Homo sapiens: one gene and its partners. The protein of the gene in region 1 interacts with the protein of each later gene in a biochemical or structural test. Each region holds a gene or a part of one and is shown on either strand. Other genes may lie near its edges. The genes, in order: BAG1, ESR1, RAF1 and PPP1R15A.

Region 1 (7,025 bases):
TAGGAGGCATTTTTATTTATATTTCATAGTGTAACATATTGTCTTTAATTTTTAAAAATATTTTATTTCTGAATTATAAAGACAATAGAAATTCATGTTTCAAAATAGAGGAATGCATGAAAAAGAAAATGTTCCCCTGGATAAAACCCCTCATAATAACACTGTGTCATCAGCATTCATTGTGGTATTGGGGTTTCCTGCAAAAAATGAGCTTTAATGGCTACTGTAGACCTTAATGCCTACTGAAGACTTTAAAGTCTTCTGTAGTGTGGTTCGTTGGTCCCTGATTCCTGAATATTTGGCTCTTTCCAGTTTCTCACTATTATGAAAAGGTTGCACTGAATATTATCGTATAGTAGTTACTGTGGAGTCGCATGTCCAATTATTTGTTTAGGATAAATATCTGGAAATGAAATTACTGGGTCATGACACCCTCTAAAAAGATACCAGTTCTCATTAGTGAACACACTTGTCTATTTCCTGTATCCTGCTGAAATTTATTTTCAGTGTTGTACAATTATTACAACTTGGCCTACCTTTCTCCTCTTTTTAGGAAAATCTCTGAAGGAAATGGAAACACCGTTGTCAGCACTTGGAATACAAGATGGTTGCCGGGTCATGTTAATTGGGAAAAAGGTAAATTGCTTTTTCCATCAGAAATCCTCAGAATCAAATGACTGAAGTCTTTTATACATGTTTCTGTTTAGAAGACCAAACTGGGGACCCAGATTCTGCATTGATAAAACACCTCTCTAAACAAATACAATCTTTATTGGTTTTACAGGATTACCAGTTTTGTTGTTCTCATACCCTCCTGCTCCTGTTGGTTAGAACTTTTGCTCTAGGAATTAGGAGCGGTTGTGCTGCCTTAATAATATGTTTTTTGTTTTGGTGGTGGAATCTTGGTCTGGTTAAAATGGTGCCTGGGACAGGTCTCATTCACTTGGAGTAGAATTTGCAAGAGTCTTTTGTTAAAATAAACTTGTAGATATTAAGAATAATCACTCTGTTCCAGTTCAGGAGCCTCTCTCCCTTTAACCAACCTTTTAACTAAAATCTCCCACAAGGGAAAACCTTCGACTGGAAAGGAAGGTTCAGACTAAAGAACTGAGGGGAAAAAAAGACAGATGAGGTCAGCAACCCTTAAGGTGATGAGAGAGGGCTGTGGCCAGCCCTGCATTGTGACACAGCAGAATTATGAGCATATGAAGTTCCCTTATTGTGAGTTAGGTGGCTGAGTAGAGAGAGGGCAGATAAACAAAGTGAAGGCAAAAAAAATCTAATCCAGACTTGGAACTGCCAGGAGACTGGAACTCAGGACTTGCCACAAAGAGAAGTGAATAATTTGGGATAGCATAACTAAGCAGAAAGCTGCTAGACCTATCTATCAATTGTTTACCTGAGAGAAGAGGGAAATATTCTAAATTTCTTGCTTCAGGGTCAGGGAGAATGGTGATGGGCAACAGGCAGAACCAAAGAGTCAAGTTTGAAGAAACTATAGGACTTTTACTTGGAGCTGACACAGAGCGTATGGAGCGAAGTGTGAACTCAAGGAAGGCACCATGGCACATGCCTATTGTCCCAGCAAGTTGGGAGTCTGAGACAGGAGGATCACTTGAGTCCAGGGGTTTGAGGCTGCAGTGAGTTATGATCATGCCTGTAAACAGCCACTGCACTCCAACCTGGGAACCGTAGTGAGACCCTATCTCAAAAAAGAAAAAAGTCTGAACTTAAGTCTAATCTACCTCTTTTGGACTGTGTGATCTCATGTTACTTTACTACATTAAGCCTCAGTTTCATCATCTGTAAAACAGCAGTACTTCCCTGATGGAGTTGTGGTAAGGCTTAAAAAATAGGTAAGGTGCTTAGGATAGTGTGTGGCATGTAGGAAGTGTTCAATAAAAGTATTCATCGTTGTTAACCAGCATCACATTAAACAGGAGCGCTCAATTGGAGGCTGCCATTTAGGAATTCCATTTAAAGGAATGGTAGAATTCCACCTTTCTTGCCATTCTGGACTCCTCACAAGTGTTTACTGAAATGTGATTACCCTCCAGGCTTCAGTCTTGGTTGTTGATCAGTATAGGGCTGAGACTGAATCTGGCACTTGGATTGTCTCCATTCTCTGCACCCAAGCTGTCAGGGCCCTCACCAGAATGTTTACCTAACACCTTCTCTCTAGTCTGGAGTCTTTGTAGATGGAAAACTTGATGTATAACCCTTTGACTTGATTTCCAAGAAGCAACAGAGTTAAAACTGTTATTTCTAGGTGAGTGGCTTCATGCAGGTGTGGTCAGGTATTTTTCCTGACAGAGGCTGCTGTTCTTGTTGATTGCTTTTTCTTTTTTCTTTTTTTTTTTTGAGACAGTCTCGCTCTGTCACCCTGGCTGGAGTACAGGTGCACGATCTCAGCTCACTACAAACCTCCACCTCCCAGGTTCAAGCTATACTCCTGCCTCAGCCTCCCGAGTAGCTAGGACTACAGGTGCACGCCAGCATGCCTGGCTAATTTTTTTGTTTTTTTAGTAGAGACAGTGTTTCACCATGTTGGCCAGGCTGGTCTTGAACTCCTGACCTCAAATGATCTGCCCATCTCGGCCTCCCAAAGTGCTGGGATTACAGGCATGAGCCACCATGCCCAGCCTGTTCTTTTTGACTATTGGCTTTATTTTCTTCTTAAACATTTTAGAACAGTCCACAGGAAGAGGTTGAACTAAAGAAGTTGAAACATTTGGAGAAGTCTGTGGAGAAGATAGCTGACCAGCTGGAAGAGTTGAATAAAGAGCTTACTGGAATCCAGCAGGTAACTCTCTTCATGGACCTTAACTTTCTGCCTTCTATCAGAGCTTCCTGGATATAACTTGTGGTTATGGGGACATGTTCTGCAGTCAGACTCCCTGGGTTCAGATCCTGGATTCACCCTTTCTCTTACTGTGAACAAGTTTATCTTTGTCTCAAGTTCCTCATCTGTAAAAATGGAATAATGGTGACATTTCCCTATTAGGATTGTTGGGAGAATTAAATAATGTAGATTGAGCTTGACACATACTAAGTGCTTTATAAGCATTTATTGTCATAGTTATTGTCAAACCCCAGCCAGCATCCATTTATGCTCACAGGAGAGCACCTGCCTTGCTAGGATCATGTATTGTCTGAAATAGAACAAGTAGCTTCTCTCTGGGCTGTTGTAATGTGTTTGGCAAGGCAAATAACATTTTGTTGGTTCATAGAAGGTCCAAGTTGAACATGATAGTGGGGTTGGGGGAGTCATCCTATTCAATTCCTTATATTAGAGATGGGGTACTAAAACCCAGTAAGGATTAGGACTAGCTCAAGACCACTTTTATTTATTTTTCCCTCTCATTTTATAGCATTAATTGGGGTGTGTTTGTGTTTTGGCTTTTTTTTTTTTTTTTTTTTTTTTGATATGGAGTCTCGCTCTGTCACCCAGGCTGGAGTGCAGTGGTGCAATCTCAGTGGCTCCCTGTAGCCTCTGCCTGCCAGGTTCAAGTGATTCTCCTGCCTCAGCCTCCCGAGTAGCTGGGATTACAGGTGCCGCCTGCCACCACATCTGTCTGATTTTTTTGTATTTTTAATAGAGATGGGGTTTCACCATGTTGGCCAGACTGGTCTCAAACTCCTGACCTCAAGTGATCTGCCCGCCTCGGCCTCCCAAAGTGCTGGGATTACAGGCATGAGCCACTGCGCCCGGCCTATATGTTTGTGTTTTAATTACAGAATACATGCTGACTGTACAAAAGTTTTAAGTACATGTATAGGCACTAATATGGAAAATAAAAATTACCCATGGGGCACCAACTCAGAGATGACGATTACCAAAGCCTGAAATATATTTTTCATCTTAAAAAAATTTGATATAATGTTATTTACACTTTATAAACTATTCTTTTATTGGATAAAAAATTAAACATTTTCCTGTGATGGTATTTTTCAAAGCTCGCATGCATTTCATCTTGTATAAATGTATTATTTACCTAGCCAACTCTGTATTGTTCATTTAATATTATTTTTACCATTATGTGTAATGCTTCTTTGACTGTCCTTGGACGTAAATCTTTTTTGACCATTCCTGGTTTTTTTGGTAGAATAAATTCTTTGAGTTGGAATTGCTGGGTGATGTTTAAAGCTCTTGCTACGTGTTGTGAAATCTGTGTCTGTAGCTCGTGGCTGTGATAAACATCCTCAGAGATCCCTGCTATCCAACTCTTGTCACCAGCTAACTGGTCATTAGGCCAAGCTGTGTGAGTGAACCATTAGACAATTTGATAAAAATAAGCACTGCTGCCATTCTTTAGCATGCGTCTGTGCCACAAGTTAGTGACACATGTACATATATTCCCTTTACCTCACAGTAACCATCTAGGGTGTGGGCATCATAATCTTCATTTTTAAAATGAGGGTACTGAGGCATGAATAGGCTAAATAATTTGCTCAAGATCACAAGTTAGTAAATGGCAGTCAGTTTTCAGGCGTAGGCTTTGAAGACTCTAAACCTGTGCTTTTAACATCTGCCTCTTCTTGTGACTGGGGGCTTCACTGGAGCCAAGCCTCAGGAGGCATTTGCAGCCACAGTGGGTCATGCGAGGTAGAGCAGACTGCAACCTGATAGAATTCTTGGACTGGCCCACGGCCAGCCTTTTTAATTTTTCCAAGAGTTAAAGTTGTGGATCTGAGATGTGGCCTGGCCTGCCAGGGCTATGGTGGGCTCAGTGTGATTGCATCATTAGTATTGTGGCATGGAGTCTTCCGTCAGCCTCAGAGAACCCTTGCAATAATGCATTATTTCCCCGCAGGGTTTTCTGCCCAAGGATTTGCAAGCTGAAGCTCTCTGCAAACTTGATAGGAGAGTAAAAGCCACAATAGAGCAGTTTATGAAGATCTTGGAGGAGATTGACACACTGGTAAGTAAATATTCAGCTGAGAAGAACTAGTTTTCTTTGACTTTATTTCAGTCACATTCACTCTTTCAGTAATTTACTCTCCTATTGCCTGAGCAAACCCATCACTTGAGAATATTAAGCATCTACTATTGTGTGCCAGTCATGTTGCTAGGTCCTGGGTGAATGCATGATGATAAGACAGTTCCTGCTTTCTAGGCACTCACAGCCCTCCAGCATAGGACTTTTATCATTTACACTTATGTTTGCCAGTAGCATCTGTAATCGTCATGAAGCTGGGACCCAAGGAGTCCACGATCTCATGGTCCAGGAAACAGAGGATTTAACTTTCTCTGATGAATATGTGACTGATAATTCTGCAGGGCTCATTACTTATAGATGATTCAGCCAGACCCAGGTCATGTGAGGCCATTGAAAATCATTAACTCTTTTGCAGATGATAGTAATGATATCTCTAGCCTGATGCTTCATTCTTGAAGGTGAACTGCACTGTGTACTTCTGTTGGCCAGGGTGGGTGTAAAGAAGCAGCAGCAGGCACTTTTCCTGTCACAATGAGCCCATGGTGTGGCCAGGGCAGAGTATCCATACATAGGAAACAATAAAAGAACAAAGTCTGTGTTAAAGATCAGTTCCTATGGCCCAGACATTGAGAACACAGGGAGCTTTTATAGGGACAAGAGCCATGGAAAGGCCATACAGGATACAGACCCAGGGAAAGGGTTCCTGAAAATGGATATCACATTTACATTGGTGACCTGTGACCTGTTTTGTGTACTGTGGGTGTTTCTTATGTGCTCTCATGTCATTTTCACTGAGGATTATTTGTTACATGTTTACTATTTACTAACTTGTATTATCAACTTACTCTTCCATAGATCCTGCCAGAAAATTTCAAAGACAGTAGATTGAAAAGGAAAGGCTTGGTAAAAAAGGTTCAGGTGAGTTGTGTAATAGTGCACGACAAGGTGTAATATGTTAATGTGTAGGTATGTGTGTTTATCTGTTCAAAATCAGGTAGTGTAGGAGCGTGGTGTGTGGTATGGGCTTGTTTTGGTTATATTTATCAGCAGGAACCCCAAACGTCAGAGAAGAGCCACCTGTGTCCCTGTAATTATATTTGAATTTAAACTATTTAGGGAGGGAACTCACTGGAGAGCAGGTAGGGCTGACACATTACACAATTCCAGGAGGCAGTATTCATGCACACAGTGCTTCCTGCGATTGTGCAGTTGCTGTGCAGTGGCCCTGAGGCAAAGCTCCCTGCCTTTACCACCTTTTAGGGGATTGCTGGCCTAGAGCATGGTCAGAATGCTGGTCCTATGCTCCCTCCCTCCCCTTACCTTGGAACCCAGGCCAGTGGCCCATCTCCATTCATGCACAATCTGTTTTGAGTCTCAGCCATGGGTTCCCCAGAATGGGTAAGCAAGGAGCCTTGTGTGGGCAGTGGTCGGCTACCCCTGGATGGGCCCTTACTGCCCCGTGTGTATTTTCTAGGCATTCCTAGCCGAGTGTGACACAGTGGAGCAGAACATCTGCCAGGAGACTGAGCGGCTGCAGTCTACAAACTTTGCCCTGGCCGAGTGAGGTGTAGCAGAAAAAGGCTGTGCTGCCCTGAAGAATGGCGCCACCAGCTCTGCCGTCTCTGGAGCGGAATTTACCTGATTTCTTCAGGGCTGCTGGGGGCAACTGGCCATTTGCCAATTTTCCTACTCTCACACTGGTTCTCAATGAAAAATAGTGTCTTTGTGATTTTGAGTAAAGCTCCTATCTGTTTTCTCCTTCTGTCTCTGTGGTTGTACTGTCCAGCAATCCACCTTTTCTGGAGAGGGCCACCTCTGCCCAAATTTTCCCAGCTGTTTGGACCTCTGGGTGCTTTCTTTGGGCTGGTGAGAGCTCTAATTTGCCTTGGGCCAGTTTCAGGTTTATAGGCCCCCTCAGTCTTCAGATACATGAGGGCTTCTTTGCTCTTGTGATCGTGTAGTCCCATAGCTGTAAAACCAGAATCACCAGGAGGTTGCACCTAGTCAGGAATATTGGGAATGGCCTAGAACAAGGTGTTTGGCACATAAGTAGACCACTTATCCCTCATTGTGACCTAATTCCAG
Region 2 (7,025 bases), on another chromosome or scaffold:
ACTAAAATGGAAAGGAATATAATAGAAAATATCAGAGTGCATGGTATTTCGTAAGGATAAGTTTTGTTTCCTGAAAATCTGTTTTAATTATATGTGCTTCTGTGTGCTGATTGTGATGTAAAATGTATTTCTTACTGTGGATTGAATTCAAAGAAAAAATTAGAAAGCTAATGGCCTAAAATATTATATGTTCAGTAGAAAACAAAAAATTCAGGCAAGTGGCTGGTTGTTTTTACCTATACAAATCAAAAGGCTATTTTGATTGTCTTCATTTTCCCCTTATAAATTAGGTTGGTGTCTTTAGTCATTTAGGCTAAGTTTTACTATCTGATTCTTAACTTTTCTATTGTAGAATGGTGCTGTCATGTGGACTGTCCTCCCGAGTGTCCCACTGGATGTTCAGAGAATTTATGTGAAGGTCACGTCATTTAGCATTGAGATGCTGTGGTTACCTTCTTCCATTTCTTCCATAATATGCAGCCACATCTATGTGTGAAGAAATGTAATAGATAAAATTTCTCTGGACGCATAATAATGTGAGAAAGATTGTCACATGTCCCAGCAAATTGTTATTAATATAAATTTGTTACTTGGCAAGCTGAGATTTTGCAAGATGTTACTCAAAATTTCACAATGAAGGAAACAGGGAGTCATCTTATCCTGGGTTCCTTTTTTAGATTTCAAACAACTTAGGAACTTTGAATAAAACTAAAGATGAAGCTTAACTATATCAACTATCCTTTTTAAAGTTCTAATTAGGAATTTAATGCTGCATGCTTATTTCAGTTTTATTACTCAGTATTCTTAAAAGTTAGACGTCTCTCACTTCTCCAAAAAACTTGGCAAATGTATAAATCTTTTGCATCAAAATCAATGCCCTGCTAATTTGTATCCTGGCCATCTGCATATTTTGGACAACTAATTTTTCCACTGGTGATCATTTGAAACTCTTTCTCAACTTTGAATAGAGACTGATTTCCAAAGTGAGATTTAAGTGACTAAGTTTCAAGTTTCCGATACATTTTTCCTTTTACTTAGATAACATTTCAGCCCCCTTCCTTTCTGATCTTACTTTTTTATTAATTTAAATTGTTACTGATTACGTGACACTTTGTGCTGGTCTAAGAATAGTCCAGAGTCACATATTCCCTGGTGAATGAGCATATTTTCGGATGAAAACGGAATCACATCTTCAATCCCCATTTCATTTTCACCTCCTCCATGTGGCTTGTACCTGTTTGGAAGAAAGCTCCTGAAGGATAATTGCCACTTATTCTAATCTTTCTCACACTCATTTAATTTGGATCCCTGGCTAAAGTTGTTATTTACTTTTGTGATTATACTTAGTCTATGACATTCATAATTTGGGAAAATTCTCAGGTTTGAGAATTTTGGCGGCTTGGGATTTCTTTTAGTTTCTTATAGTTTTAAGGATATGTAAGACAGGTGTAAGAAACTGCCAAGGGGAGGAACCATAGATATCAGGAAAAACTAGAAAAGATGCCAGACTTACCATTAATGAATGATGAGACAATAGTAACTTTGTTAAGTGAGATTGTATATGTGAAAGTGGTATAGAAACTAAACAAACATTAGGTGTTTTTATTATTTTACTCACATGTTAATATTTGTTTTGGTGCTTTCATAGGCTAAAAAGCTGGGAAATAACAGATTTAAGTGGTCAGGAATTTTGTTATAAATATAGAATGATGATTATATGAAATCTTTTCCTGTGAAAGTCAAATTTAAGTAAAATCTTTATCACCATCTGCAACATTTGTCTGCAGCCTGGCTTACCAGGTTATCATAAAGAACATTTATTTTACAGATACATTAAAGAAAGTCAAAACCCTGATTATGTGTAAACAATTTTACATAAGGAAATATATGAATTTTAATTATATTTTTCTAAAATCCGTACTCAGCATGAAATTAATACATCTTAACCCCTCCCTGTGACTTCATTATTATTTTTAATGTAACTTTAGAAGAACCCAGTAGAGAGAGCAGCGTGCTAAGTGTGTTTCTTTCTTTTCCAGACAACTTTGAATGGAGAGGAGCAAATTAGTCTTTTGGTTTAATTCTGTCTCAGTTTGCTTATCTAAAGAAAGGAAAACAGAGTGGCTACACTTGTTTAGAACCATATGCATACTCCAGAGAAAGATGCTCTATTAATCCAAAAAATACAGCCACTTGAAACCAGCCAAAGCGAAAGTGTAAGGGACTTCATGGAAAGGAGGCAGTTCACCAAAGTTATTGAGGGGTTTTATATTTTAAACTCCGCCAGTGAATTGACGTGTAATGTCACTTACAAAAAAAAAAAAAGTATGTCTGAGCTGTTCGCTACTTCGTCTCTAAAATATACTCATACTGATCTCTGAAATCCCAGAATTTAAGTGGGCTGGAGGTTACGGGAAGCACCTTTATAATATCCTTAATCTCATGAGGGAAGAAACCATAATTGCTGAATTCTCTGCCTTGGATAATATCAGGAGGGACTCTGAAGAAAGTTTTGCAGTAATCAACAATGTTTTAAATTATGTGTATATTTTTAGATCACCTCAAAAAATATAGGAAGCACAGAATGACAACTATTCTGGTCTCAACTGACACAATTTTATGTAGTTTAATAAAGTAATAATTTCAAGAAACGTGGGCAAATAAGAAAGAGTATGACTTTCTTACAACCCGCTTGTAAGTGATGTGGTGGTGGTAATGATCCATGATTTTGATGATGACGATGATGATGAAAATGAAGTTTTTGTCTCAGTTTGGGTAGGTGGTATTTCTGGATGCCTCCTATGGACCCTGGAGATGTTCATCCTATACAGAAATCCAATCCTTTAAATCTACTTGGCTCATTGTTTTAGAATTCTAATTCCATAGTCTGAAAATTTTAATAATGATATTACCAATAATATTAGAAACTTATTAAGTACCTATAATTGCTATACAAAAAATTTAAAAGAACCCAAAATTCCAAGCAAGACTGAAAATTTTTTGTCTCTCCTCTGAACTATTTAGAGGGACAAATTAGTTTGTTCTTATAATATCTACTTTAAATAAATGTGCCATCTTTAATAAGATAGTAGACTTCTTTGTTTGGTAATGTTCTATTTTTTGGAGATCCTATGAGTTACACTTGGGAAAATTATAAAAGTTCACTTAAAGTTAATAAAATCCATTAAGTAATGTTCAGAACTAGACATTTCCAAATGAGCCCTTGAAAAGCTCAGGTGGGTTCTTTTTGAGAGTTCCCCAAATGTTGTCAACCCCAGGAGGAATGGAAGACCTCTGCAGTTTTGTTATTCAGATTCTCATCTCCTTCTCAGAAGCCGTAGAACTGGCCGGGCCCTAAGGTCCACGCTCCTTGGTTCCAGTTCTGTCTTCCATCCTTCGGTCCCGGGCTCATTCTGCCTGTTCCTAAACGGTGGCAAGTTAGGGGCCCCAGCAGCCAACTTGTGCTTACCTGGCACTACTTCCTGGGCAGTTTTCTTGGCTCCTTGACTTGTTGGGCGGCTTGGGATTTCTTTTATGGCCCTGAAAGCAAAAGACAATGTTCTCTTTTAGTTTCCTGCAATTAAATGATGTTAGAAATAGTCATCTTCACATTGGCGTACTTCCTCTTTCTTCTGTAGGTCTTTTAGAATTTTGAGTCCATTCTCATATTTTCTTGTTTCATTTGCTTTATTTTCTAATACATAGAAGTTTAAACTCCCTTTAAAGAGTTTTTGGCCTCTTTTACCCTATTAAGCTTTCTTTTTTCTTTTCTGTTTTAGTTGTTCCATCTGTGTATTCTCAGATATTTTTCTTTCACCTTTTCTGGTTTATTTCTTTATTGACCTGTCTCATCTGTTATTTTAATGAAATTTGGAACAGGGCTAAACAGAGTTCCTACCTCAGCCAGTATAAGAATATACCGTAATAACTCAGAGTGGTATTAACTAGATTAAAAGTTTCAAAAAGTGATGTTTTTCTTGTCTCTGAGGATAGAAACTTCAACAAAATAAAGAAGAAATTTTCAATTAGTAGAATTTCTTTGAAAGTTTGTTCATTCATTCATTTGGCTACCTTATTCCAAATTGAGTCATTCATTGAGGGCTTAGACTATATAAAGTGTGGTTTTGTTTTCCCAGCAGTTCATGCAACAGCATTGCACCTAGCAGCTGGGAAGTCTTATAGCATGAATAGGTGAGATTCTAATACCAGAATCTCCTGCATGTGTAAACTAACAGTGTAGTCTTGACTGTTGTCTCCCAGTAAACTTGGTTTCAGGAGTTTTAGATCCATGTGAACGTGTACAAGGCATTTTTGCTAACTGTAACTTCCCACTTAATCAACAAAAACAAAAACACTCATTTCTGAACATTCAGTGCATTCATGATTAATCTTAATTACACCACAAAGGTATTTTTCAATGGTGATTTTGCGGGAGTGGGGTAACAGTTTCGAAAGCAACATTGTCAGAAACATAGTTGATTTTAAAGGTTCTTTCTGGTGACTTTGACTTCTGCTTTTTTAGAAGACCTTACACAGAGTTGTATTTATTTCTCCTGGAATATTTCAAGCAATTCAGAGTGAAAGGGTATACATTCCAATTTGCGTATGAGATAAAATTTAGTTACATTGAGAAGCTATTTTCTTTAGTTACAGGGAAAAAATTGTAGGGCTTTTGGAAGCCTCTTTGATTTCTAATAGGAGGAATCCCTGAGCACTGGTCCAAACAGAAATCATCTCTTCTTCATTGCTGTATTTCCCTCAAGCTCTTAGCAAAGTGCATGGCACGTGAAAGCCCGGAGAAGCTGTTGGTTGAAAGAATGGATGGTGGTGGGCAGGAAGCATCAGGGACATGGTTTGCTTCAGTCTATTGGCTGGGAGAAAGGCCATTTAGGAAGGGATCCTTAGATGCCACTGGAAGAATGTGGGAAGTTTGTGAATCTCTCTTTCTCAGGAACAAAAGTAGAAAAAGGACTCCACACAGCATTCCAAGTACAGTCGGCCCTCATTATTCATGGATTCTGTATTTGCAAATTCGCTGACTTACTGACGTTTATTTGTAACCTTCGAGTCAACACTCACGGTGCTTTCTCAGTCCTTTGCAGACGTGTGGAATGGCAAAAAAATTTGAGTTATATGACGTATATGTTCCCAGCTGAGGCTGAGCAAGGCTCACTTCTCCTTGCAGCCCTCAGACTATAAACAAGTGTCCCTCTTGCTATCTACTTCGTGTTATGATTTTTGCATTTTCATAATCCCTGTTGATGATTTTGCTGTTTAAAATGGCCCCTAAGCATGGTCCTGAAGTACTGTCTAGGGATTCTAAGACAAGGCTCTGACGTGTCTTAAGAGAAAATACGTGTTTGATAAGCTTTATTCAGGCATGAGTTACAATGCTGTTGGCCATGAGTTCAATGATGGTGAATCAACAGGATATATTAAATACAGTGTTTTTGAACAGAAAAACATATAAAACAAGGTTATGTATTAATGAGTTGGCAAAAATGCTGTGACCAAAGGCTCCCAGGAACCTACCCTATTTTCCCCTCAATGCAATGGTTCAGTATTTGCTAATTCAGTGTTTGAGGTGACTTTATAGAACATGAGTACCATGAATAATGAGAATCGATTCTGTATAATAGAGTGATGAAAGCACAGGTCTGGGAGCCAGCAGCTATATTTCTATTCTGGCGTGACTCCTGTGTAGTTGTCATCACTGGCAAATTGCTTAACTGTGTGCCTCAGTTTCCTAATCTGTAAAAGCTACATCGTTTGGATGATGTGAGGATTAAACAAATTCATAGATGTCTAGGGCTTATAACATTCCTGGCACATAACAAGTCATTATTTTTTATTACTACTTCGGAAGGGAATTGAGTACTATACCCTGAAGAAGGTGAGTATGGGAATTCTCTACGGGTCTGGAATGTCCCTATATTTGTTTATTTTGCCTTCAAGTGACTAACTTTAATACCCTATTGTGATTAGAAGTTAAACTTCTGCAACCAAAAGGAAGCAGGAAGCTAGTATTTCTTGAAGTGCTTATTACATGCCAGGTACTGTGCTACAAAAACAAAACAAAACAACTGTAAAAAAAACTTCAAATTTGGCTGCGTGCAGCTGCTCATGCCTGTCATCCCAGCACTTTGAGGAACTGAAGGGAGGATTGCTTGAGTCCAGGAGTTCCAGACCAGCCTGGGCAACACAGTGAGACCCTGTCTCTACAAAAAAACAAAAACAAAAACAAAGGCACTCCAAATCAGTAAAAATTAATCAATCAATAAAAAGAGTGAGGGGCATTAAGTATTGTGGACTGAAGCAATCCCAGAGAGGGAATTAATTGAAGCTGAGGTAAGCAGCTTATGGAGAAGCTATGATGTACAGAGGGCAAGGAAGGAATTTTTCTGTAATTTGGAAAAATGGGAACTGTGAGAAAGAAGGAGTTGGAAGCTCATACTTAGGGAGCATCTACAAGGACGTCTTTTTCACGTTGGTTGGAATATCCAAATCAAGGATTATTTCAGAATCACCCAGATGATTAAAAAACTACTGAGATCCAGGTTGTATTTCAGCAGTTCTGACAATTGCTCTGGGTCGAAGCTTGAATCAGTAGTTAAGAAAAACAACAAACAAAACAAATTTTGGGGCTTTTCTCACTGATTTACAGTTAAAGCTCATTTACTCTTCCTATGACTTTAGATGGAGGATATTTCCAAGTCTTCAGGATGGAGACATGGAGGGAAGTGAGACTAGTGATGTGCCTCAAGGTTTTGCTGTTGTTCTAACCATGAGGAGCACTATTCAAACCCAGGTCTGCTAGATTTCCAAGTCTTCATTTCCTTGGGCCTCTTGGATTTCAGAAGCAGAGGGTAAAAGGAGTGCTGGGGAGAAAGATCACAGTAGCTTTCAATTCTACTCCTCAGCTTTCCAAAATAAGTTTCAAGACTGGCCGTTGCATTTGATATGGAATAAATACAAAGAAGGTAGATTGAAGGGTATGAAGATGCAGATTTTTGATACCAGATATG
Region 3 (7,025 bases), on another chromosome or scaffold:
TCCAGAAGCTGATTTCCAAAATCCCATGTGTCTCCACATCAGGGCTGGACTGCCTGCTACCTTACTTCCTCTAAATACTCATGTAGCCAACAGCTGGGGCTGGGCCCCTGCTTTTTGTACTACCATCAACATCCACTTGCGCATCTACAGAAGGCTGGGCCTTGAGCATGGGGAATGTGGGGAGGGAGCAGGACACACCAGCACTGCAAATGGCTTCCTTCTCCCAGGGCCCAAAGGGATAGAAAAGAAGGCAACATGAAGTTAAGGCCCTGTGAGCAGTCTAGAAGGTCCTTAGCAGCAGCTTCTCTGAAAACATGTGTTCTGCCTCTGGAGAAAGGGAGCAGAAAAGTGGTGCCTGCTGGCTTCTCCTCCTCCCCTGGCAGCCTGAAGACAGGTGCAAAGTCAACTAGAAGACAGGCAGCCTCGGGGACGTGGTCAGCGTGCAAGCATTGATATCCTCAGTGTGGGCTGCCCGATGCAAGGATGGCTCGGAAGCGCTCCGGTTGATCTTCGGTAGAGAGTGTTGGAGCAGCTCAATGGAAGACAGGATCTGAAACAAAGCCCAAGAATGCTCTCATTAGCTGTGTCTCAAAGACACAGGATGTACCCTGCCCCCCACCATCTTGTAGAGGACCTGGGTCCCCTCCCTATAAAACAAAACAAAACACTCCCACCTTATATTGCCATCTTTACGAACCAACCCATGCTTTAATCACATTCTAGCAGCCCTGAGCCTTACCTGGGGAAAAAGAGGCCTCTCTTCCTTTACTTTCTTCACACAGTCAGCTACCAGCCTCTTCATTGCTTTGGGGCAGTTCTTATATAGCTTACTAAGATCTGGGGAGGCATATCCTCGGCCCACCATGAAGATGATCTAAGGGAAAGAAAACAGCTGAGCTAATGGGGGGTGAATGAACAACAGATAATAACAAGTCCTAACCCTCTAGCTGCTTAGGCTGGCGGAGGCCCAGGGGCTCCCACGAGTTGGGTCCTTTCGCACCAGCACAGACTTACCTGATCTCGGTTGTTGATGTGAGAATAAGGAAGCTCCCCCGTCATCAGTTCATACAATACGATGCCATAGGAGTAGACATCCGACTGGAAACTGAATGGGTTGTTATCCTGCATTCGGATCACCTCTGGGGCCTACATGTATCACCATATGACAAAAGTGCATTTATCACCATATGACAGGCCTCACAGACATCTAGGGGCCAGGCTGTCCCTTTCATTAGTTATGAATGAGTCCATTCTTCAGTCCCCACATAGCTTTTCCCCCAAAGGACTCCAACTCAGGCACTGGTTAAAACAGCTCAGGAATCCTTGTCTTTAAAGGACCAAGACCCAGCATTTCTGTCACCCAGCTTATTAACTCCTCTCCACACTAAGCTTCACAGTGGTTCTGATCAACAGCTTCCTCAAGAAAATCTACAATTGCCCTGAGGCTGGCTGTCACTAGGGGTCATGTGGATTTCGGGGAAATGTACAGAAACGCTTTAAGTTTGCACATAAATCTCCAAGGCATTCCTTTTGCCCTATACCAGAGACTGCTGGTGGGAGCCCAGATTCTCACCATCCAGAGGACAGAGCCAGTAGGTTGTTCAACCTGCTGAGAACCACTCCAGCGTGACTTTACTGTTGCCAAACCAAAATCTCCAATTTTCACTGTTAAGCCTTCATGGAGAAATATATCTCAATGCTTGTTAAGGACTCTGGTTTCAAAAGAATGGTCAGGTTAATTTTGAAAAATATCCCAAAGTTCTTTATAACACGGTAATCTCTCCACCTTACCTCTGTCACAGCCTCTCTGCACTGAACTTCCTAAGGTTTCTGAAGTTCTTTAAAGTGCTTTTGAAATGCACCTTCTTCCAGAAGACAGGCAGGGATTGGTCAATGTGCCAGATTATTTGGCCCTAGCCAAAAGCAAGCCAGCGTTTCTTCCCTGCTTCTTCTCCCCATTTGCACATCTAGGTGCTGGGTCTCTGGCCTTGTGACCTTTCCACATAATACAGGTACTTGAAACCCTAACAGGATGAGCAGAGGCCACACTCCAGTGCTCCCCAGAGGGCCAAGGATGGCCTGACAGCTTACAGTCGTTTCTGCCTGTATTCTGCCCTCAAATCACCATCTGAAACTTGAGTGGTTAACAAAATAGCAAATCCCTTACTGAGTGTTCAATGTTGTAGTAAGAAATTCCTCACTAGAATCGGTACCACTCAGTGACTTCAAAATGAGAACTGAAGTCGGCTCGCTTCTGGGTAAAGAAGTCATACAGTTTAAGTCAAACTTGTGAGGAAAAAAAAATTAAAAAAGAACAAAAAATTAAAAAACAAAACACACACAAAGTAACTTGTGATGTTGGTGCCCAGGAATTCACACCTCCTTAAATCTGTGGTGTCTGCTTTCATGGTATAATGTTTGGCTGCTAAAAACCCCACCACTGAAAGGTGTTCCACACCTCAGACATGTACCTAAAATAGGCCATGTCCCATAATCCAACACAACTATCATGCCTCTCACTGCTCAAGAGGCAAAACGTGGGTTGTAATGCCATCTTTCTTTCACAAGGAAAGGCTCGTGGAGGGTGGCAGATTCAAAATTGTTAAATTTCACGCCTCACAGCATTAAAAATACCTTTCTTCATTTACTCTTCTATAAAAACAACCCCTCTCCTCTTCTAATAGTGACTTCTGAAGAACCCACTTATGTACCTTTGAGAAAGACCATTTTATTTATTTATTTTTTTGAGACACAGCCTTGCTCTGTCCCCAAGGCTGGAGTGCAGTGGCGTGATCTCAGCTCACTGCAACCTCTGCCTCCCAGGTTCAAGCAATTCTCGTGCCTCAGCCTCCTGAGTAGCTGGGATTATAGGTACGTGCCACCACACTCAGCTAATTTTTAAATTTAGAGATGGGGTTTCACCACATTGGCCAGGCAAGTCTCAAACTCCTAGCCTCAAGTGATCCACCTGCCTCAGCCTCCCAAAGTGCTGGGATTATAGGTGTGAGCCATCACGCCCAGTCAAGAAAGACTATTTTAATTAGTGATTTTGGAAACCTTTCAACATTTGGCTTGTAGCTACTTGCTATCCACATAACAAGCAGATAGACATACACACGCTGGCCACAAACTAGAAATAAACTTAAGACAAAAGCCCAATCCCCGTCAGGTTACATTTACTAATAGTGTGATAAAATTATGCCTATTTCAAGCTTACGGAAATCTCTCCAAATCACTTTTGCTGAGATAAACTCAGAAAGGAACCTAACCTAAACATCGCTCTCATCAGTCCAGGTGAGGCATAAGCTGCTGAGGGACAGGCCAAGCCTACTAATTTTCTGACTTTTCTGTTTTCCTGTCCTCTGCCTCTTTCCTTAAAAAGATATCCCCTGGCACCGAGAGCCACTTGTGATAGAAAGCCTCCCTTCTGTTTCCCTAAATTTAGAACCGAGCAGTCAAATGAACTCAACAACCAAAGGATACTGTTGGATTTCATGTCTCTATGGATGATGTTCTTTGCATGCAAATAGCTGTGAAGGGAAAAGAAATTATTAAAAATAAGTTTGAGGGGCATGAGTAGAAAGCAGTTTTAAACTACAGCTAAGAAGTAAAGCCACTGAAGGCCTGGCTCCAAGGAGTGTTACACACAGGGATAGACCCTGTGCTGTTCAGCCTGGTTCACATCACTGCTTACCTGAAGGTGAGGCCACAGCACAAACATGCTTACACCTTTTTTTTTTTTTTTTTGGAGACTGGAGTGCAGTCAATAGCTTACTGCAGCCTTAACCTCCTGGGCTCAAGTGATCCTCCCACCTCCCAGTAGCCGGGACCACAGGCATGTGCCACCATGCCGCCTTTTTTTTTTTTTTTTTTTTTTTGGGTAGATACAGGGTCTTGCACTGTTGCCCAAGCTGGTCTTGACTCCTGGGCTCAAGTGATCCTCCCATGTTGGCCTCCAAAATGCTTGGATTACAGGCATGGGCCCCTGGCGCCTGACCATTGCTGACACTTCTTCAAGCATCAGTTTTACTCTAAAGTAATTCTGATAACCCAATGTCCATAAATGATGAATGAATAATGTGGCATATCCATACAATGGAATGTTACTCAGACACAGAAAGGAATGAAGTAGTGACTCATGCTACACATTAACCTTGAAAATACTATGCTAGGTCTAAGAGCCCAGGCACACAATACCATATCTTATGTATTATATACAGCCAAGCATCACTTAACGGCAGGGATACCTTCTGAGAAATGTGTTGTTAGCCAACTTGTCATCATGCACACATCATAAAGTGTATTCACACAAACCAAGAAGGTACAGCCTTCTACACACCCTGGCTAAATGGTATAACGTGTTGCACTTAGGCTACAAAACTGTATGGCCCTCAGTGTACTGAATACTGTAGCTGGTTGTAACATGGTGAGTATTTGTGTCTCTAAACATAGCCAAACATAGAAAAGGCACAGTAAAAATACAGTATTATAATCTTGTGGGACCACCTTCCTATATGTGGTCATTGACCGAAACATCATTATATGTTACCTGACTATATTATATCTTACATGATTCCATTTATATTGAACTATAAAGTAGGCAAAATCCATAGAAACAGAAAGTAGACTGCAAGTGGGTGGGAGGTATTGGGTAACCTCTAATGGGTATATTGTTTGGATATCTGTCCACTCCAAATCTCAAGTTGAAATGTGATCCCCAGTGTTGGAGGTGGGACCTAAGTGGCAGGTGTTTGGGTCATGGGGATGGATTCCTCACAAACGGCTCGGTGGCCTCCCTGCAGTAACGAGTGAGTTCACACACTATTAGCTCACATGAAACCTGGTTATTAAAGAGTCTGGGACCTCCCTCCATGCTCTCTCTCTTGCTCCTTTCTCTCACCACATCACACGTGGCTCCCCTTGCCTTCTGCCATGAGTGAAAGCTTCCTGAGGGCCTCACCAGACACAGATGCTGGTGTCATGCTTTTTGTACAGTCTGCAGAACCCCGAGTCAAATAAACCTCTTTTCTTTATAAATTACCCACCCTTAGGTCTTCCTTTAGAGCAACCCAAACAGACTAATACAATGGGCATGTGTTTCTTTCCGGGATAATGAAAATGTTCTAAAATTAGATAGTGGTGGTGGCTGCACAACTCAATACCAGAAAAACACTGAGGTAGGTGTACATTTTAAAAGGGGGAATTTTATGATGTATGAATTATATCTCAATTTTTCTGAAAAGTCATTCCATTTCTTAAAATACACAGAAGGCAACTTCCATATGAATTTTAAAGACAGTGTGAGAATTTATGTAGGACTTGCAAGCACAGCTATAGCTTAGTAACTCCCAGATGTCTAGGGGTACGAGGAGCTCCTCTACTTCAGAGGAGAAGTTTGAGAAGCACTACCCTAGGCTAGCCAGGAAAGGTGGGAGGATCACTTGAGTCCAGTTTGAGACCAGCCTGGGCAACATAGTGAGACCTCCGACTCTACAAAATACACGAAAATTAGCTGGGCACGGTAGCATGTGCCTGCAGTCCCAGCAACCTATGAGACTGAGCCAAGAGGATAGCTGGAGCCCAGGAGTTCAAGGATGCAGTGAGCTATGATTGCGCCGCTGCACTCTAGCATAGGTGACAGAGTGAGAACCTGTGTCTCTAAGGAAAAAAGTGTGGTTTTTTTGGGTTTTTTTTTTTTTTTCAGATGGAGTCTGGCTCTGTCACCCAGGCTAGAGTGCAATGGCACAATCTCCACTCACTGCAACCTCCGCCTCCCGGGTTGAAGTGATTCTTCTGCCTCAGCCTCCCGAGTAGCTGGGATTACAAGCGCCTGCCACCACAACCAGCTAATTTTTGTATTTTTAGTAGAGATGAGATTTCACCACATTGGCCAGGCTGGTTTCGAACTCCTGGCCTCGTCATCCACCCGCCTCAGCCTCCCAAAGTGCTGGGATTATGGGCATGAGCCACCGTGCCTGGCCAGGAAAAAGTTTTTAATTAAAAAAAAAAAATTATCCCAAAAACAACATCTGCTTAAACCCTCATGTGGGACAGCCATGCCTCAGACAGCTGAGCAGAAGGCATTGCCACAGCTGTCCAAGCAGAAGGTACATGCACCCCACTATATTCTCAGGTTTCTGATAAAGCCAGGGTAGCAGGCAGAGCCCAAAGCTGAGCCCCAAGGGGGAAGTTCAGTCCCAAGGAGGAACCTGAACTTCTCTTTTTTTTTTTTTGAGACAGAGTCTCGCTTCTGCAGCCAAGGTTGGAGTGCAGTAACGTGATCTAAGCTCCCCGCAACCTCTGCTTTCCAATGTTCAAGCGATTCTCCCTGTCCCAGTTCTTGAGTAGCTGGGATTATAGGCATGTGCCACCAGACTTGGTTCATTCTTGTATTTTCAGTAGAAACAGGGTTTTGCCATATTGGCAAGGCTGGTCTCAAAACTACTGGCCTCAAGTGATCCACTGGCCTTGGCCTCCCAAAGTGCTGGGATTACAGGTGTGAGCCACCCCACCCAGCTGGAACCTGAACAACTCATTCCTGATAATTGGCCCCTCCAGCCCAGGCCAGAGGCTTGTGCAAAGATATCACAGAATCGCTTAATGGACTAGAAGGCTTTTCCTGATCCTGGTTCCAATTTAGGGACAAATTTGATGCCTGGGTCCCAGAGAGGCATCAGACCATCTACTCACTCCATTCCCTGAGCCGTCTGCCGGGCAATGTCAATTAGCTGGAACATCTGAAACTTGGTCTCCTGGACATGCAGGTGTTTGTAGAGGCTGCTGCCCTCGCACCACTGGGTCACAATTGCCAGGTTGTCCTTTGTCATGTACCCCATGAAAAGCAGAATGTTCACATGCCGTGTTTTGCTGGGGAGGGGAGGGGAAGAGAGGAGAGGGAGGAGGAAAGTGCTCAGGGAGGTCTACTGTGCTTTCCCGTGGACAGTGGGTTCTGTGCTGTCGACACCACCCCCAGTCCCAACACCACCCCCAGTCCCAAAAACAAACACATGGCACGGCTGATAACC
Region 4 (7,048 bases), on another chromosome or scaffold:
TTCTGTCCAAATCTTTTATTGTCAGACTCACAGGGTCTCTTCCTTAAGTCTCTGTCTCATTCTCTCTCTCTCTCTCTCTCTGTCTCTCAGTCATCCCCTGTGTCCTCTCTCCTTCACACTCAGTCTCTTCCTCTTTCTCTCTGGCTCTGCCGTTTCCTCCCTTTTCTCTTTCCGATTTCCCTTCTCACTTTCTCCCTTCCTCCCTCTCCCAGTTTCTCTTTCCTCTCTGCTGGTCTTTCCCTGCCTCTGCCAGCCGCCCACGCTGCTGTTCTCCCCTCCCAATCCCGGCTGTCCCCGCCCCTTCTGGCCTCCCCACTACAGCCTGACCTCTGGCTCAGCTGCCCCCATAGCTGAAGGGAGGGGCTTGGGCCCCCCAATTCCCAGGTCCCCTAAGGACCAAGGTTGGGACTTCTCAGTGTTTGGAGAGTTGGACTTGAGGCCTGCACTCCAGGGCCCCCGTGGGTTTGCTGCTGTGGTTGGGGGCCTGAGCCACTGGTGTCCTAAACGGAGGAGGCTTGTGTCCTGCAAGGGGTGGGGACTCAAATTTCCAAAGCCCTGGAGGGAATGGGTTAGGGATCCAGACTCCTGGGTGCCCGAGAAGGTCTGAGCTAGGATCAGGACTCCTGAGTCGTGAAAGAGCTGGGGGTCTGGAAACATGGCTGTGCTTGGAAGGGGCCAGGGACGGTTTGTCCAGGTCCCCTAGGGAGAAAAGGGGATGGTCCCAGTAGGGCAGGGTGAAATGGAGAGTTCCAAACCTCCACCTCAGATCCAGGTGAGAATTCTCTTCTAGACTGAGGACAACTCCCTCAGGAGAGAGACATGATTCCTTGGTATATTTTGAGGAACAAGATTATGCATCCGTAGGCAGGGGAGGAGAGCGGGGGGCTGGAACTGTCACCCAGGGCCTGGAACTTGTAGCAGAAGCGCCCCCACCCGCACAAAGAGTGCCACCCAGGCAGAATCGCGGCTTGTGGGGGCAGAGCTACTGCCTAAGTCTGAAGCAGATGACACCCAGGAGTGGAGCCTTGTGCCTGTGACCGGGAAGGAATCTGAGCTTTCGGTTTAACTGCCATTCACCATGCACCTGTTGAGCACCTACTGTGTGCAGGCACTGTCTGTTGCAGCCACTGAGAAGAAAGCAGTGAGCCCTGGCTGGGTGCAATGGCTCACGCCTGTAATCCCAGCACTTTGGGAGGCCAAGGCAGGAGGATCGCTTGAGACCAGGAGTTCAACACCAGCCTGGGCATCATAGCGAGACCTTGTCTCTATTTAGAAAATGAATTTCTTTTTTTTTTTTTTTTGAGGCGGTGTTTTGCTCTGTCGCCAGGCTGGAGTGCAGTGGCGTGATCTCGGCTCACTGCAACCTCCGCCTCCCGGGTTCAAGCGATTCTCCTGACTCAGCCTCCTGAGTAGCTGGAACTACAGGCACATGCCACTGCACCCGGCCTAAATTAATTATTATTATTATTTTTTTGAGACGGAGTCTCGCTCTGTCGCCCAGGCTGGAGTACAGTGGCACGATCTCAGCTCACTGCAAGCTCTGCCTCCCAGGTTCACGCCATTCTCCTGCCTCAGCCTCCCGAGTAGCTGGGACTACAGGTGCCCACCACCACGCCCGGCTAATTTATTTTGTATTTTTAGTGGAGGCGGGGTTTCACCGTGTTAGCCAGGATGGTCTTGATCTCCTGACCTCATGATCCACCTGCCTCAGCGTCCCAAAGTGCTAGGATTACAGGCGTGAGCCACCGCGCTCAGCCTAATTACTTTTTTTTGAAAAGCATTGAGCCCAGCAAAGTGCCTGATCTCATAGTGCTTACATCCTCATTCTCATTTGCAAGGAATCTGGACCCTGCTGTGACTATCTTGGTCAAGTGGCTTCATTTCCAAGCCTGTTTCCCCATCTGTGAAATGGGAACAATGACACCCTCGCACTCGGGGAGGAAACCAACCACATGTGAAAATAGGAGACTCTAGCCAGGCGTGGTGGCAAGCTCCTGTACTCCCAACTACTCAGGAGGCTGAGGCAGGAGAATTGCTTGAACCCGGGAGGCGGAGGTTGCAGTGAGCCAAGATCATGCCATTGCACTCCAGCCTGGGTGACAGAGTGAGACACCGTCTCAAAAAAAAAAAAAAAAAAAGAAAGAAAAAGAAAAAAGAAAGAAAAGAAAAAAAAAAGAAAATGGGAGACTCTAGGCTGGGGCCTGTGGGCTAAATTGGGGTAGGAGGCCAGGCACAGTGGATCACAACTGTAATTCCAGCACTTTGGGAAGCCAAGGCGGGCAGATCACCTGAGGTCAGGAGTTCAAGACCAGCCTGGTCGGCCGGGTGCGGTGGCTCACACCTGTAATCCCAGCACTTTGGGAGGCCGAGGCGGGTGGATCACAAGGTCAGGAGATCGAGACCATCCTGGTTAACACGGTGAAAAACCCCGTCTCTACTAAGAATACAAAAAAAATTAGCCGGGCGTGGTGGTGGGCACCTGTAGTCCCAGCTACTAGGGAGGCTGAGGCAGGAGAATGGCGAGAACCAGGGAGGAGGAGCTTGCAGTGAGCCAAGATCGTGCCACTGCACTCCAGCCTGGGCGACAGAGCAAGACTCCGTCTCAAAAAAAAAAAAAAAAAAAAAGACCTGCCTGGTCAACATGGCGAAACACTGTCTCTACTAAAAATACAAAAATTACCCAGGCATTGTGGCACATGCCTGTAATCCCAGCTACTCCAGAGGCTCAGGCAGGAGAATCGCTGGAACCCAGGAGGTGGAGGTTGCAGTGAACCGAGATGGCGCCACTGAACTCCAGCCTGGGCGACAGAGTGAGACGCCTACTCAAAAAATAAATAGGCTGGGTGCAGTAGCTCACGCCTATAATCCTAACACTTTGGGAAGCCGAGGCAGGCAGACTGCCTGAGCTCAGGAGTTCGAGAACAGCCTGGGCAACATGGCGAAACACTGTCTCTACTAAAAATACAAAAAATTAGCTGAGTGTGGTAGTGCGTGCCTGTAATCCCAGCTACTCGGAGGCTGAAGAGGGAGAATCGCTTGAACCCGGAAGATGGAGGTTGCAGTGAGCCGAGATCACGCCATTGCACTCCAGCCTCGGTGACAGAGCGAGACTCCATCTCAAAAAAAAATAAAAAAATAAAAAATAACAAATAAATAAATAGGCCTGGAGTGGTGGCTCACGCCTGCAATCCCAGCACTTTGGGAGGCCAAGGCAGGCAGAACACCTGAGGTCAGGAGTTCGAGACCAGCCTAGCAAACATGGTGAAATCCCGTCTCAGAAAAATAAATAATGAATAAATAAATAAATAAATAGGCCGGGCGCGGTGACTCACGCCTGTAATCCCAGCACTTTGGGAGGCCAAGGCGGGAGGATCCCCTGACGTCGGGAGTTCCAGACCAGCCTGACCAACATGGAGAAACTACGTCTCTACTAAACAAATACAAAATTAGCCGGGCGTGGCGGCACATGCCTGCAATCCCAGCACTTTGGGAGGCCAAGGCGGGAGGATCCCCTGACGTCGGGAGTTCCAGACCAGCCTGACCAACATGGAGAAACTACGTCTCTACTAAACAAATACAAAATTAGCCGGGCGTGGCGGCACATGCCTGCAATCCCAGATACTCGGGATGCTGAGGCAGGAGAATCGCTTGAACCCCGAAGGCGGAGGTTGCGGTGAGCCGAGATCGCCCCTTTGCATTCCAGCCTGAGCAACAAGAGCAAAACTCCGCCTCAAAATAACTAACTAAATAAATAAATAAATTGGGGTGGGAAGGCATTGACCCTGAGCTGAGAGAGAACTGGCTCGCTGTTGAAGCAGGGCCACGCATTTGATTGACAGTTCGTTTGTTGGAGGGGCGTGGTCACGCTCGGAAACTCCGCCGTGACGTTGCAAAAGCTGGAATCTCCGCGAGAAGTCCTGTCTTACTTCCACTTCCCACCCTTCGGGTTGCGGTCTCGAAACCCCGCCTCTCTTCGTGACGTCAGCACGCCGGGCGCGGTAGGCTATAAAAGCCTAGTGGCCATTGTGTTCGTTGCTCTTATCGGTTCCCATCCCAGTTGTTGATCTTATGCAAGACGCTGCACGACCCCGCGCCCGCTTGTCGCCACGGCACTTGAGGCAGCCGGAGATACTCTGAGTTACTCGGAGCCCGACGCCTGAGGGTGAGATGAACGCGCTGGCCTCCCTAACCGTCCGGACCTGTGATCGCTTCTGGCAGACCGAACCGGCGCTCCTGCCCCCGGGGTGACGCGCAGCTCCCAGCCGGTGAGTAAGGGGTCGGAACGCCTGGGTCCCCACGGGGCTGGGGGCCCGGATTTAGAAAGGAGAAGGGGTTGGGAGCCTGGAGTCCTGAGCCTGAGGGAGGAGGGATCTGGAAGCCAGATTCTTGGGTCCCCCGTGAAGGAATCATCTGCCAAGTAGGGGGTCGGGTCAGAATGTTTCAGTCTGCGAGGGAGGAGGGTGTGAGGGTTTGATTTGTCAATCTTCAGCAGAATGAGAGAGCTAGGGACTATGACTTTGTCGCCAAGGGAAGCAAGTAAAGACTTTTGTTCTTGGTTCTTGGGACTGGGAGTTCTGCGTCTGAAGAAAGAGAGGGCTGGGGGCTTGGACCCTTGGATCTAAGGCAGAACTAGGGGCTCAGACTCCTGGCTATTGAGAGATAAGAACAGAGCCAAGGGACAGAGATGGGCGTGGCCGAGATCAGAAAGGAATTTGGGACTCTCGCGTTGCTATTTACAATAGTTGTGTTACTATTTCCGTTGCTATGACTCATAGTCACGCCCGGATGCCATCCTCTAAATGGCCCCTAAACTTTATTTTTTTCTCCCCCTTTTCCAGCCCAGACACATGGCCCCAGGCCAAGCACCCCATCAGGCTACCCCGTGGAGGGATGCCCACCCTTTCTTCCTCCTGTCCCCAGTGATGGGCCTCCTCAGCCGCGCCTGGAGCCGCCTGAGGGGCCTGGGACCTCTAGAGCCCTGGCTGGTGGAAGCAGTAAAAGGAGCAGCTCTGGTAGAAGCTGGCCTGGAGGGAGAAGCTAGGACTCCTCTGGCAATCCCCCATACCCCTTGGGGCAGACGCCCTGAAGAGGAGGCTGAAGACAGTGGAGGCCCTGGAGAGGACAGAGAAACACTGGGGCTGAAAACCAGCAGTTCCCTTCCTGAAGCCTGGGGACTTTTGGATGATGATGATGGCATGTATGGTGAGCGAGAGGCAACCAGTGTCCCTAGAGGGCAGGGAAGTCAATTTGCAGATGGCCAGCGTGCTCCCCTGTCTCCCAGCCTTCTGATAAGGACACTGCAAGGTTCTGATAAGAACCCAGGGGAGGAGAAAGCCGAGGAAGAGGGAGTTGCTGAAGAGGAGGGAGTTAACAAGTTCTCTTATCCACCATCACACCGGGAGTGTTGTCCAGCCGTGGAGGAGGAGGACGATGAAGAAGCTGTAAAGAAAGAAGCTCACAGAACCTCTACTTCTGCCTTGTCTCCAGGATCCAAGCCCAGCACTTGGGTGTCTTGCCCAGGGGAGGAAGAGAATCAAGCCACGGAGGATAAAAGAACAGAAAGAAGTAAAGGAGCCAGGAAGACCTCCGTGTCCCCCCGATCTTCAGGCTCCGACCCCAGGTCCTGGGAGTATCGTTCAGGAGAGGCGTCCGAGGAGAAGGAGGAAAAGGCACACAAAGAAACTGGGAAAGGAGAAGCTGCCCCAGGGCCGCAATCCTCAGCCCCAGCCCAGAGGCCCCAGCTCAAGTCCTGGTGGTGCCAACCCAGTGATGAAGAGGAGGGTGAGGTCAAGGCTTTGGGGGCAGCTGAGAAGGATGGAGAAGCTGAGTGTCCTCCCTGCATCCCCCCACCAAGTGCCTTCCTGAAGGCCTGGGTGTATTGGCCAGGAGAGGACACAGAGGAAGAGGAAGATGAGGAAGAAGATGAGGACAGTGACTCTGGATCAGATGAGGAAGAGGGAGAAGCTGAGGCTTCCTCTTCCACTCCTGCTACAGGTGTCTTCTTGAAGTCCTGGGTCTATCAGCCAGGAGAGGACACAGAGGAGGAGGAAGATGAGGACAGTGATACAGGATCAGCCGAGGATGAAAGAGAAGCTGAGACTTCTGCTTCCACACCCCCTGCAAGTGCTTTCTTGAAGGCCTGGGTGTATCGGCCAGGAGAGGACACGGAGGAGGAGGAAGATGAGGATGTGGATAGTGAGGATAAGGAAGATGATTCAGAAGCAGCCTTGGGAGAAGCTGAGTCAGACCCACATCCCTCCCACCCGGACCAGAGGGCCCACTTCAGGGGCTGGGGATATCGACCTGGAAAAGAGACAGAGGAAGAGGAAGCTGCTGAGGACTGGGGAGAAGCTGAGCCCTGCCCCTTCCGAGTGGCCATCTATGTACCTGGAGAGAAGCCACCGCCTCCCTGGGCTCCTCCTAGGCTGCCCCTCCGACTGCAAAGGCGGCTCAAGCGCCCAGAAACCCCTACTCATGATCCGGACCCTGAGACTCCCCTAAAGGCCAGAAAGGTAGGTGCTGAGAGCCCAGATTCTATTTTTTTTTTTTTTTTAATTGAGTTGGAGTCTTGGGCTGTCACCCAGGCTGGAGTGCAGCGGCATGATCTTGGCTCACTGCCAACCTCTGCCGCCCAAGTTCAGGCGATTCTCGTGCCTCAGCCTCCAGAGTATCTGGGATTACAGGCGCATGACACCACACCCAGCTAATTTTTTTTGTATTTTTAGTAGAGACGGGGGTTTTGCCATGTTGGCCAGGCTGGTCTCAAACTCCTGACATCACGTGATCCACCCATCTCAGCCTCCCAAAGTGCTGGGATTACAGGCGTGAGCTACCACATCTGGCTGAGAGCCCAGATTCTTGAGTCTTAGAAAGAAAGGGGGCTGGGGGCCGAGACTTCTGGGTCCCTGTATGTTGCAGAGGGTTGCATGTCATCTCCATGGAGAAGGCTGTGTACGCTGTCACGCAATCCCTTGTAAGAGGCCAGGCCCCTGGGGGAGGAGGGAGCAGCTGTGGCTCACAGCAGCCCCAGGAAACCACCTCTTCCTTC

What was found.
Region 2: the proteins of BAG1 (region 1) and ESR1 form a complex in vitro, tested with the Homo sapiens proteins (one study listed by BioGRID).
Region 3: the proteins of BAG1 (region 1) and RAF1 form a complex in vitro, tested with the Homo sapiens proteins (2 studies listed by BioGRID).
Region 4: the proteins of BAG1 (region 1) and PPP1R15A form a complex in vitro, tested with the Homo sapiens proteins (one study listed by BioGRID).

The regions. Positions count from the first base shown.
Region 1 is NC_000009.12:33,254,698-33,261,722, reverse strand, and holds part of BAG1 (BAG family molecular chaperone regulator 1), read left to right. Parts: intron 1-553; coding exon 554-636; intron 637-2,689; coding exon 2,690-2,803; intron 2,804-4,814; coding exon 4,815-4,922; intron 4,923-5,795; coding exon 5,796-5,858; intron 5,859-6,414; coding exon 6,415-6,504; 3' UTR 6,505-7,025. UniProt on the Homo sapiens protein: Co-chaperone for HSP70 and HSC70 chaperone proteins. Acts as a nucleotide-exchange factor (NEF) promoting the release of ADP from the HSP70 and HSC70 proteins thereby triggering client/substrate protein release.
Region 2 is NC_000006.12:151,810,657-151,817,681, forward strand, and holds part of ESR1 (estrogen receptor), read left to right. Parts: intron 1-7,025.
Region 3 is NC_000003.12:12,584,108-12,591,132, forward strand, and holds part of RAF1 (RAF proto-oncogene serine/threonine-protein kinase), read right to left. Parts: intron 6,868-7,025; coding exon 6,691-6,867; intron 3,531-6,690; coding exon 3,484-3,530; intron 1,693-3,483; coding exon 1,574-1,692; intron 1,147-1,573; coding exon 1,015-1,146; intron 875-1,014; coding exon 740-874; intron 551-739; coding exon 407-550; 3' UTR 1-406. UniProt on the Homo sapiens protein: Serine/threonine-protein kinase that acts as a regulatory link between the membrane-associated Ras GTPases and the MAPK/ERK cascade, and this critical regulatory link functions as a switch determining cell fate decisions including proliferation, differentiation, apoptosis, survival and oncogenic transformation.
Region 4 is NC_000019.10:48,868,387-48,875,434, forward strand, and holds the start of PPP1R15A (protein phosphatase 1 regulatory subunit 15A), read left to right. Parts: upstream 1-4,034; 5' UTR 4,035-4,265; intron 4,266-4,838; 5' UTR 4,839-4,847; coding exon 4,848-6,512; intron 6,513-7,048. UniProt on the Homo sapiens protein: Recruits the serine/threonine-protein phosphatase PPP1CA to prevents excessive phosphorylation of the translation initiation factor eIF-2A/EIF2S1, thereby reversing the shut-off of protein synthesis initiated by stress-inducible kinases and facilitating recovery of cells from stress.